Regions from separate parts of the Homo sapiens genome. Here region 1 is linked to region 2. Evidence: fine-mapped expression QTL. A gene starts in region 2. The other region holds a variant in brackets. All regions are shown on one strand. Distances are from middle to middle.

Region 1 (5,353 bases), 51 kb after region 2:
TCCCTTCTCACACGAGAAGCACAAACAGGCACAGGGTCAGGGCAATGTACCAAAGGGAGCCTTCAATGTCTCCCTTTAAAGGATGACGATTTAATGCCCAAACTCAGAGTCTAAACAAAATCCCACACACCCTGTGCGCCTTGGGAAGCATGGCTGGAATGCTGACTGGGCTTGGCTGCCCCATCCGTGTGCATGTCTAGACACTCGCCTGGCTTCACTGTTTCTAAGCTGCATTTCACTTTCAAGCCCTCTTCACATTTTACAGAAATGTGAGTTCCTCCTCTTGAAGGCCTACTGTCATCCACAAAGCTCCTTTTTTACGGGCATCCCATTTAATGTAAGTCACATTTTACGGTTCTCTTGCATAAAATGCATTTGGAGAAATTTGGGGGCTGATCTGGCAGGTGCTGCAGTTTGCTCAGGAAGCTGGAGAACAGAAGAGAAGGGCAGCGTGGCAGCAGTGGAGCGGGGCAGCAGGGATTTTGCTGCACACTCTGGAGAGGGACTACCTGGTTCAAACTCCACCCCACTGCTCACGGGCTCTGGGATACCGGGCAAGTTGCTTCTCCTCCTGTGTATCTGTTTCATCTTCTCTTTAGGAAGAATGTCTTTCCTACTAGAGATTAAGAGTCACAGATGCCAGCTGGGCTCAGCGGCTCACGCCTGTAATCCCAGCACTTTGGGAGGCCAAGGCGGGCAGATCACTTGAAGTCAGGAGTTTGAGACCAGCTTGGCCAACATGGCAAAACCCCATCTCTACTAAAAATACAAAATTAGCCAGGCATGGTGGCAGGCACCTCTAATCCCAGCTACTCAGGAGGCTGAGGCAGGAGAATCGCTTGAACCCAGGAAGCAGAGGTTGCGGTGAGCCAAGATCGCACCACTGCACTCCAGCCTGGGTGACAAAGCAAGACTCCATCTCAAAAGAAAAAAAAGAGTCATAGATGCCAAACTGTGTGGGTTCCCATCTCAGCTCTACCACTTTCTTGCTGAGACATCTTGGGTAGGTTCCTTGACCTCTCCATCCCTCGGTTTCCTCATCTATGAAATGGGCATTATTATTTATGGTACCCATAAATGTGGAGATTACATATTCATATACTTGGCTTAGAATTTAGTTTATCTAGTGCCTAGAACAATAGCTGGCTTAAAGAGGTCAAATGGTATTATCATTATGACCCTGGAAATGAAGGCTTGGATTGTATTTAAGTTGGATCCATTCCAGTGATGACAGCTGTGCTAACGTCACCTCTGGTGGCTTTGTCCCCAAGATTCGAGATTACGGTGAGCCCTTTCAGGAAGCAATGTGGTTGGACCTGGTTAAGGAAAGGCTGATTACGGAAATGTACACGGTGGCATGGTTTGTGCGAGACATGCGCCTGATGTTTCGCAACCATAAAACATTTTACAAGGTAAAGAGCATTTCCTGCTTCCTTTTTGCGTCTTTTCTACTTTCCCCTAATTTCTGGGACAGCAGAATTTTGCAAGTATTACACTCAGTTTCAGCCTGGGGAGAGCTCAAACAAGACAAGGATTACAGAAAAAAAACCACCTCGGCATTCCTGGAGGCAAGGAGTGAGTGGCAAAAAGAACAGCAAGCAGGACAGGGGAGGGATCTCTGGAACAGAAGCTGAAAAAAACCATGCTCTGTTCCCAGATCGGCAGCTCGCTCCCAACGAGAGCAGTAAATGGCATCCAGCCTCTTTGTTCAAACTGGAAGGAAAGGCAGTTTATGCCTACATTGTTCTTCCTGCCTCAGAAATATGAAAATAAATAAGTAAACAACATAAAATCAATTAAACTTCCTGGATAATCAGGCTTGCATATTTTTACACATAAATTTCTCATTGGACTCAAACATCTGGAATTGCCTTCAGATCCAATGTTGGTTTCATCCTCCTTTACTAGGGAGGGACAGCTGGTTGAGCTATCCTGCAATCCCAGACATTTGTAACTTTGGTTTTTCCTGATTTTTATCCTCACTTGTACAGATATTTCTTGGGAGGTACCTAAGGAAGATTTTCATCTCCACCCAGCTTCCTTCCCTTCTTCCATGCCAGGAGTTGGCATGTTCACAAACCACAGATTGTAAACTGGTACCCA[T/C]TCATGGAGCTGCAGGGAGAAAGGGTTGACCAGAGAGCCACTCAGTGCCTGGCATATCCGTAGTCCTGGAGAACAGAGGGTCATCCTTCCTCAGCGAGTGGGCTTCCAAGAAATGCATTTACAAAAATTGTTAAGCTATTTTGCATCATGCTCAGATTTGCCATGATCAAAACTAACCCTTCAGTCTAAATCGCCTGTCAGGTGGAAATTAACAACCAGCTGGAGTCTCATGCTTTTCAACATTTTAGTAGCAGCATCTCCCCATCCATTCTGCCTTACTGCTGGGCTCCTAAAAAAATAAGAGTGAGGCTGGGCATGGTGACTCACATCTGTAATCCCAGCTTTTTGGGAGTCCGAGGTGAGGGAATCATCTGAGGCCAGGAGTTTGAGACCAGCCTGAGCAACATAGCAAGGCCTCCTCACCCCGATCTCTGAAAGAGAAAAAAATGTTTTAAAACTTTGGGCATAGTGGCATGTGCCTGTAGTTTCAGCTTCTCAGGAGCTGAGGTGGGAGGATCACATGAGCCCAGGAATTCAAGGCTGCAGTGAGCCATGACGGTGCCACTGCACCACAGCCTGGGTGACGGGGAAAGACCCTGACTCAAAAACAAAAACACAAAAAAAAGTATGAGTGATTTGATGGCTGTAATCCTTCATCCTTCAATGTGTTTGTTTGCTTTTTTCTCTTTCAGGCTTCTGACTTTGGCCAGGTAGGACTTGACTTAGAGGCAGAATTTGAAAAAGATCTCAAAGACGTGCTCGGTTTTCATGAAGCCAATGACGGCGGTTTCTGGACTCTTCCTTGACCCTGTTCTGTAAAGACTGAAGCATCCCCACCTCAGGATTCAGCTGATGGGACCCTGGCTTGGACTGTTGATTGCCAGTGAGTCTGGGATGTAATTGGCTGCCCTCAGGACCCAAACCCAGACACTTCATAGGATTATCACACCCTCCATCTTTATTCTTTCTTTTTACCTTTAAAAGTCTATATCTACACTAAAAAAAAAAAAAATTAATACTTCCTTAATACCATCAGATACCCCATCATAGTTCACATTCTCCCCACTGTCTCATAAGTCTTTTTAGAGTTGATTTGTTCAAATCAGGATCTAAACAAGTTCCACACACTGCATTTGGCTCTCCTGTCCCTATGTCTCTTTTAAGCTATAAATTGTCATGTATTTATTGAAGAACTCAGGGTTTTGGTCCTATTACATTTTTTGCAATCTGGAATTTTCTGGTTGCATTTTCTTAGTGGTATAGTCCTCTCTTCCTCTCATTTTTTGTAAGCTAGAAGTTAGATCTAGAAGCTTGCTTTAACTCAGGTTTTGAGGGGTTTGTTTTGATTTGGGGGTTTTGGGGCACATGCAGGCTTCACAGGGGAATTTAGTATTATTTTTTATGTTAAGGTTGGCAGCAGGTGCACGTGTTATCAGCCTGATCATCTATCACCTGATGGTTTTAGCAATACCTAAATCCGTGATATCATCAGAGGTTGCAAAATGATGAGATTCAGGTTTTTTTTTACATAATTATTGGTCAGAATTATTCTGCAAATAGCTTCTCTTTAACAGTATTCGGTTACCTTGAAATACAGGTTGTACAAAAAATAGGATAAATGCTTGTTTTTTTATTTAGCAATGTTCAAAATAATGAATTGATGTCCCAATATCCTCTAAAGGTAACCAGGGATTTTTTAATTTAATTATCTTGAACCCACATATTTAAATATACGTAGCATGCTACAAACCATTGCAGTTAATACCTTTATTGATGCTTGAGTTGCCCACTTTTTCTTTTTTTTTTTTTTTTTTTTTTTTTGAGACAGAGTCTCACTCTGTCACCCAGGCCGGAGTACAGTAGCGTCATCTTGACTCACTGCAACCTCCTCCTCCTGGGTGCAAGCGATTCTCCTGCCTCAGCCTCCGAGTAGCTGGGATTACAGGCATGTGCAAGTTCCCCACTTTTAGTGAGAAACTCCTCAATTTGCCTCCTGAGTTGTTTTGAAATGACCCCAGAACTCTTTGATGGTGTATTAGCTATCTATTGCTGTGTAACAAATGACCTCAAAGCTTAGCTGCTTAAAAAGAAAAAAACATTTTATTGCTCACTATTCTGTGGATCAAGAATTCAGGCATCATCCATGAGGATGCTTCCCTTTGCTCCACATGGTACTGGCAGACCCCATTCATACTTGCACACTGTCACTTCTGCCACAATCTATTGGTGAAAGCAAGTCACAGGGACAGATTCAGAAGGAGGGAGAATAGACCTTACCTCTTGATGCGATGGGTGGCAAAGTCACATTTCAAAGGAGAATGTTGCTTGGGAAGAAACATTGCTGCTCCCATCTTTAGAAGCAATCTACCATAGTTCACCCTCTGGCCACAGTAGTTCACATCTTTCCCAAATGCAAAGGACACTCCTCTCCCCACAGAAGTCTCACTCTCTGCAGCATTGGAACAAAGTCCAGGACCTCCTTATCTAAATCAGGTTCAGATCAGATAAAGCTTCTTCGGGCTGGGCACAGTGGCTCACACCTGAAATCCCAGCACTTTAGGAGGCCGAGGCAGGTGGATCGCTTGAGTCCAGGAGTTGAAGACCAGCCTGGGTAACATGGCAAAACCTCATCTCTACAAAAAAAAAAAAAAAAAAATCTTTTTAATTAGCTGGGCAAGGTGGCACACACCTGTAGTCCCAGCTACTCAGGAGGCTGAGGTGGAAGGATGAGCCTGGGAGGCAGAGGTCGCAGTGAGCCAAGAATGCACCACTGCACTCCAGCCTGGACAACAGAGACCCTGCCTCAAAAAAAAAAAAAAAAAAAGGAAAGAAAACAAAAGAAATAGGCTCCTCAGGTATGGTTTATTGGGTGCAGCTCCTTGGGTGCACCTCCTCTTGAACTAGAGGCCTGTGAGCTGAAAAATTGTTTCTTCCCTGCTGCCAACAGTCAGTGATGAAACAGGGACTGAACAACTACTATAGACACTTCCATTCAAACGGGGAAAAAGGAAGCAGCAGTCACTCATTTATAGCAATTCTGAAATCCAGTCAAGCACATGTTGCTAGTTCCCCCTAATCCCAGGGCAGGAAATTTTCCTTGATACATGATTTATATGTATGATACACCTCTAATTCCCATCCCATCCCATCCTACCCCACAGGCTTCTTCCTTGTCTTCCTCGGTTCTGTATTGGTGTCTCCCTTCTCCAACAGTATTATTTACTCACTTGCTCAATCCCCAGGTACAACA
Region 2 (5,347 bases):
AGAGGACTAGGTTAAGAAAGTAGGCAGTCCAGGCAGGTTATATTGACTCACTTGCCCTTTGTCATAATATAGTTGAAAGATATCTGGATCACCTGGACATCCCATAGAATGTCAGACTGGGCTGGGCATGGTGGCTCATGCCTATAACCCCAGCACTTCGGGAGGCTGAGGCAGGCAGATCACGAGGTCAGGAGATCAAGACCATCCTGGCCAACATGGTGAAACCCCATCTCTACTAAAAATACAAAAATTAGCCAGGTATGGTGATGCGTGCCTGTAGTCCCAGCTACTCAGGAGGCTGAGGAAAGAGAATCACTTGAACCTGGGAGGCGGAGGTTGCAGTGAGCCAAGATTGCGCCACAGCACTCTAGCCTGGAGACAGACCGTGACTCTGTCTCAAAAAAAAAAAAAAAAGTCAGACTGATTGATGACATCATGCTGATCAGACAGGATGAGCAGGATCTTGGTGGCTAGCATACCTGCTAAAGAAGAATAAATTACTGACCCACAACAACAGAGATGAATCTCAAAAGCATGATGATGAGGAAAAGAAAGCCATACACCAAAAATGCATTCCATGTGCCTTCATTGATAAAAAAAAAAAAAAAAAAAACTTTAATACACACGAAACTAATCTGTGGTGATAGAAAGCAGATCAGTGGTTGCCTGGTGCTGGCCTTAAGGAGGGGATTGTTTGCAAAGGTCACAGGGAACTTTCTAGGGTAACAGAAATGGTCTGTATCTTTTTTTTTTTTTTTGAGACAGGGTCTCACTCTGTCACTGCTCACCAGAGACTGGACCTCCTGGGCTCAAGCAATTCTCCCACTTCTGTCTCCCTGATAGCGGGGACCACAGGTGTATGCCAACATGCCCAATTAATTTAAAAAAATGTATTTTTGTAGAGACGAGGTCTTGCTCTGTTGTCCAGGCTGGTCTCAAACACCTGGGCTCAAGCGATCCTCCTGCTTTGACCTCCCAGAATGCTGGGATTATAGGCACAAGCGACTCTCCAGGCCTAGAAATGGTCTACATCTTGACTGGTGTAGTAACTACATTTGGTAAAATGTACATTACAATGAATAAATTTTATACCTCAATAAAATGGAGCTAAAAAGAATTATGTATAATTTATCTCAGTACATAATCACTAGCATGTGAATTAACAGGTGACGTTTTCCCATTATTACCATGTTCTCAAGCATGCATTTTTTTTTTTTTTTTTTTGAGGCGGGATCTCACTCTGTTGCTCAGGCTGAACTGCTGTGGCGCAGTCTCAGCTCACTGCAACCTCCAGCTCCTGAGTTCAAGCGATTCTCATGCCTCAGCCTCCCGAGTAGCTCGGATTACAGGCATGTGCCACCACGCCCAGCTAATTTTTTTGTGTTTTTAGTAGAGACGGGATTTTGCCATGTTGGCAAGGCTGGTCTTGAATTCCTGGCCTCAAGTGATCTGCCTGCCTCAGCCTCCCAAAGTGCTAGCTAAGCTACAGGCCTGAGCCACTGTGCCCAGCCAAGCATATATGGCTTAGAATAAACATCTTTCATCCTCATTCGCAGCTGTCTTTTTTTCATGTAACAATTTTTGCCTGATTTGACATTGACTTTATTTTCCCACTCCTGCTTTACTTTTGTTTGTTTGTTTTGCATTTGCCTGGTGTATCTCTGAATAGATCTAAAGGAAGAAGTTCTTGCTGCCAGGATCCTCAGATGCCCATGAAGGGGCTTTCCAGGTGATGGGGAGGGGCTTCAGGTAAGTGACATGTGACATTTGCATAAAATAACCTTAATTCCTTTACCACCGCCATCCCCTGCATCACAGCGCTGTATGTTACTGCATGCTGAGGCATCAATGCACCCTCTCCTCAGCTGTTAGCATTGAATTTTTCCTGGCTGTGGCTTCCATGCCTCTGTTTCACCCACAGCCATTACCCGCAAGGCCGGGTCTGCTATTCTGTACATACTAGGGTGGGATATGCTGTTTGTGCCTGCATAGAAGGGCTTGCTCTTATGCAGTTAGCCTTGGTTTCAAAGCTTCTTAAACTTTAGATCCATGTCTCCCATCTTTTATCTGAGGAGTTTGTGGATGTCCTGGTAGGGGAACTTGTGGGTCAAATACATTTGAGAATTATTGATTTAATCAAAGTTACATAGAATTCTTTTTTTTTTTTTTTTTCGAGATGGAGTCTTGCTCTGTCACCCAGGCTGGAGTGCAGTGGTGCGATCTCGGCTCACTGCAACCTCCACCTCCTGGGTTCAAGCAATTCTCCTGCCTCAGCCTCCCAAGTAGCTGGGATTACAGGTTCCCGCCACCACATCTGGCTAATTTTTGTATTTTTAGTAGAGATGGGGTTTCACCATGTTGGCCAGGATGGTCTCAAACTCCTGACCTTGTGATCCACCCATCTCAGCCTCCCAAAGTGCTGGGATTACAGGCGTGAGCCACCGAGCCTGGCCCAAAGTTACACAGATTTCTATAGTGCAGTGGTGCAATCATAGCTCACCGCAGCCTTGAACTCCTGGGCTCAAGCAAGTCTCCAGCCTCAGCCTCCTCACTAACTAGGACTACAAGGTGCATGCCACCACACTCAGTTAATTTTTTATTTTTTTATTTTTTGTAGAGATGGGGTCTCACTATGTTGCCCAGACTGGTCTCAAACTCCTAGGCTCAAGCAATCCTCCCATCTTGGCCTCCTAAAGTCCTGGGATTATAGGCATGAGCCACTGTGCCTGGCCAATAGTTTAGGATTTTTCATAGGCCCCACATGTCAATGTACATTAGGGATCTTTAAAAGGGGCATGAGAAGGGGTGTCCCTGCCAGCCCTTGAGTTACTGCTCTCTGGAATCAGCAGGTCCCAGTTCTGCCTCAGACTCCTGGCTCCCAACTACCTGCCCAGCTCTCAGCCATTTTTCTGCCTGGAGGTCTGCCTGCCTCTGCACAATTCCAGTTCATGTGCAGGTTCCCTTTCATTTCAATTTCTTCCTGTAATAATCTTATCCTGACAAGTTCTAGGCATTTCTGGCACATTCTCTTTGTTTTTTTGTGTGTTGTTAGAGTTTGATAACACACTGGATAAATTCCAGTGAATTCATTCAGTTATGTAAACATCACCACAATCCAGTTTGAGAACATTTTCATCAACCTAAAATGTACAGAATGAGGACAAGTCATGGGAAAATAGATGTGGTTAGGGAAGCATTTGGACGCTGAGTTCCCAGTTCCTATTGCCGCTGGGGCTGTACCCTTATGCCTCCTCCTCCCATACCTCCCTCTCTGGGCTGATCCCAACTGGCAACACGCCCTCCCCCAAACCCCAACTGCCAAGACGTCCTGGGAGCCTCACAAGTGCCCATGAGGAGGTGGAGAGAGGCTGCAGGCACCGACCTGCCTTCAGCTTCCGGCTTGGCAAACTCCGAAAACTTTCACTTTTCTTTTCTCGGAAGCCCGGCCCCTTACTGCGTTTGTCAAAGCACAGACTTCCTGTTTTGCCTGCTAGCATCTCCCTGTAACTCTCCCAATCTTGAGGAGTGATCCCTGTCCCAGCCCCTGGAAAGGGGCAGGAACGACAAACTCAAAGTCCAGGTGAGTTTCTGTCTTTGCTGCTTTATTCTTCGCTCTTGGTGACTGCAGCTCTTAGAGTTAACTTCGCGGCAGCAGCTGCAGGGTGGAGTTCAACTATTTAAACTCTGAGGCTCTCTCAGAGCTCAGACATGTGGTACTTATTAGGAGACTGTTAAAAGGGGGCACATGGAGGGAACACTGACACCTCTTTTTTTCGCCAGAGTCCAGCCTGTTATTGTGAATGGAGCCGAGATTTGCCCTCTACCCTCACCTAAGCTCTGATCCTTCAGTGCCCGCAATAGGCGGCTCATCTGTTATCCATTGTGTAAATGACTAGAGGTACTTGGGAAGCTGGTGGAAAAGAAAAAAATGAGAGTACATTTAATTTCGTCTCTAGTGTATCATGAACTTTTTATATATTTTCTCTAAATACATGATTATTTCCTTGAAATAAATTATTAGAAGTGGAAATTCAAAGGAGCACATGTTTTAGGACATTTGACACTGATTACTAAATCAGCCTTCAGAACATTTGGACCTGTTGACCTTCCCACTCACAGTGTCTGAGATTATTACTATTATTTTCTATCTTGGCCAATTTGATAGACAAATATGTTATCAAATTGTCTTCATTTACACTTTTTTTGGTTGTTTGTTGTTGTTGTTTTCTGAGACGGAGTCTCGCTCTGTCACCCAGGCTGGAGTGCAATGGCACCATCTCAGATCACTGCAACCTCCACCTCCCAGGTTCAAGCGATTCTCCTGCCTCAGCCTCCTGAGTAACTGGGACTACAGATGTGCACCACCACGCCCAGCTAATTTTTGTATTTTTAGTAGAGACAGGGTTTCACCATGTTGGCCAGGCTGGTCTCGAACTCCTGACCTCAGCTGATCCGCCCACCTCAACCTCCCAAAGTGCTGGGATTACAGGCATGAGCCACCATGCCTGGCCTTCTTTATGCTTTCTACTAGCTAGTTAACATGCTTATCGTATTATTCATTGCACATTTGGCTTATTCTTTTATCACTCTCTGTTCATGTATTTTGCTTTTTTATTTTCTAGTTGGATGTTTGTCTTTTGCTTATTCGTTTGCAAAATCTCTTTACATAATAAAAATCTGAACAGTCATATATGAGATGTAGTATCTTGCATAGAAAGAAACAGGGCTTTAGAGTCAGACAAGCTCTGCTTTGCCACTGAATACCTTGGGTGAGTTACTAAACCTCTCTGTGCCTCCCTTTCATCTTTGGGACTCATGACAGATGAAGAATGAGGAAGCTCTAGACTTCCTGTTCTGAGCGCTGCTGTATAATGAATTGTTCTAAAAGGAGCCTCCAAGACCCCTTCCTCTTCTTAGTATATGTTTACTCTGCCTTTCTCTGACTTTGCACTGATCTTTGCACTATCTCCTTCCCCTGTGCATATTGTGGATAGTAGATTTCTCTCCTATCTGTTCTCTATCTTCCAAGACTTCTTTACCACCACAGACTCTCAATGGCATCTTTTCTTGTTTTCCTATGCGATTGCGGATTATTCTTTTCATGAGTATTTTTTTCTGCCAAGTTAAAAAAATTGGGGAATGAGGAGAAAGAGACTAGGGTGCTTAATCTGCCACTGGGATTAAATCCCTGTAAACAGTTGTTAATTACGATTTACTTTTCTGTTCAACACAAAATGAAGTTGGAAAAGTGGAATCCATGTTTGTTCTGTTTGTTAAAAACTGTCAAGTTGATTGAATGTTTTGTTAGTGCTTTTCCTTTTCTTGACAATTTGTCAAGAATGTCATT

What was found. PIP is the estimated chance that this variant, and not a neighbour inherited with it, causes the effect.
Region 1: its variant is fine-mapped to the expression of SP110 in monocytes (TOPMed, PIP above 0.99).

The regions. Positions count from the first base shown.
Region 1 is chr2:230,166,680-230,172,032 of GRCh38, reverse strand. SP110 (SP110 nuclear body protein) reads left to right here. Exons shown (of 19, transcript NM_080424.4): 17 at 266-337; 18 at 1,272-1,412; 19 at 2,796-5,353. The coding sequence ends at 2,909. Among named protein-coding and RNA genes, the nearest start is that of SP110, 51 kb to the left of the region's middle. The variant T/C (reference allele first, on the strand shown) is at 2,104.
Region 2 is chr2:230,218,107-230,223,453 of GRCh38, reverse strand. It overlaps SP110 (SP110 nuclear body protein), which reads left to right and starts at 3,470. Exons shown (of 19, transcript NM_080424.4): 1 at 3,470-3,580. It also overlaps a transcript of SP140 not described here. RefSeq lists a silencer at 3,358-3,544 and an enhancer at 3,262-3,741.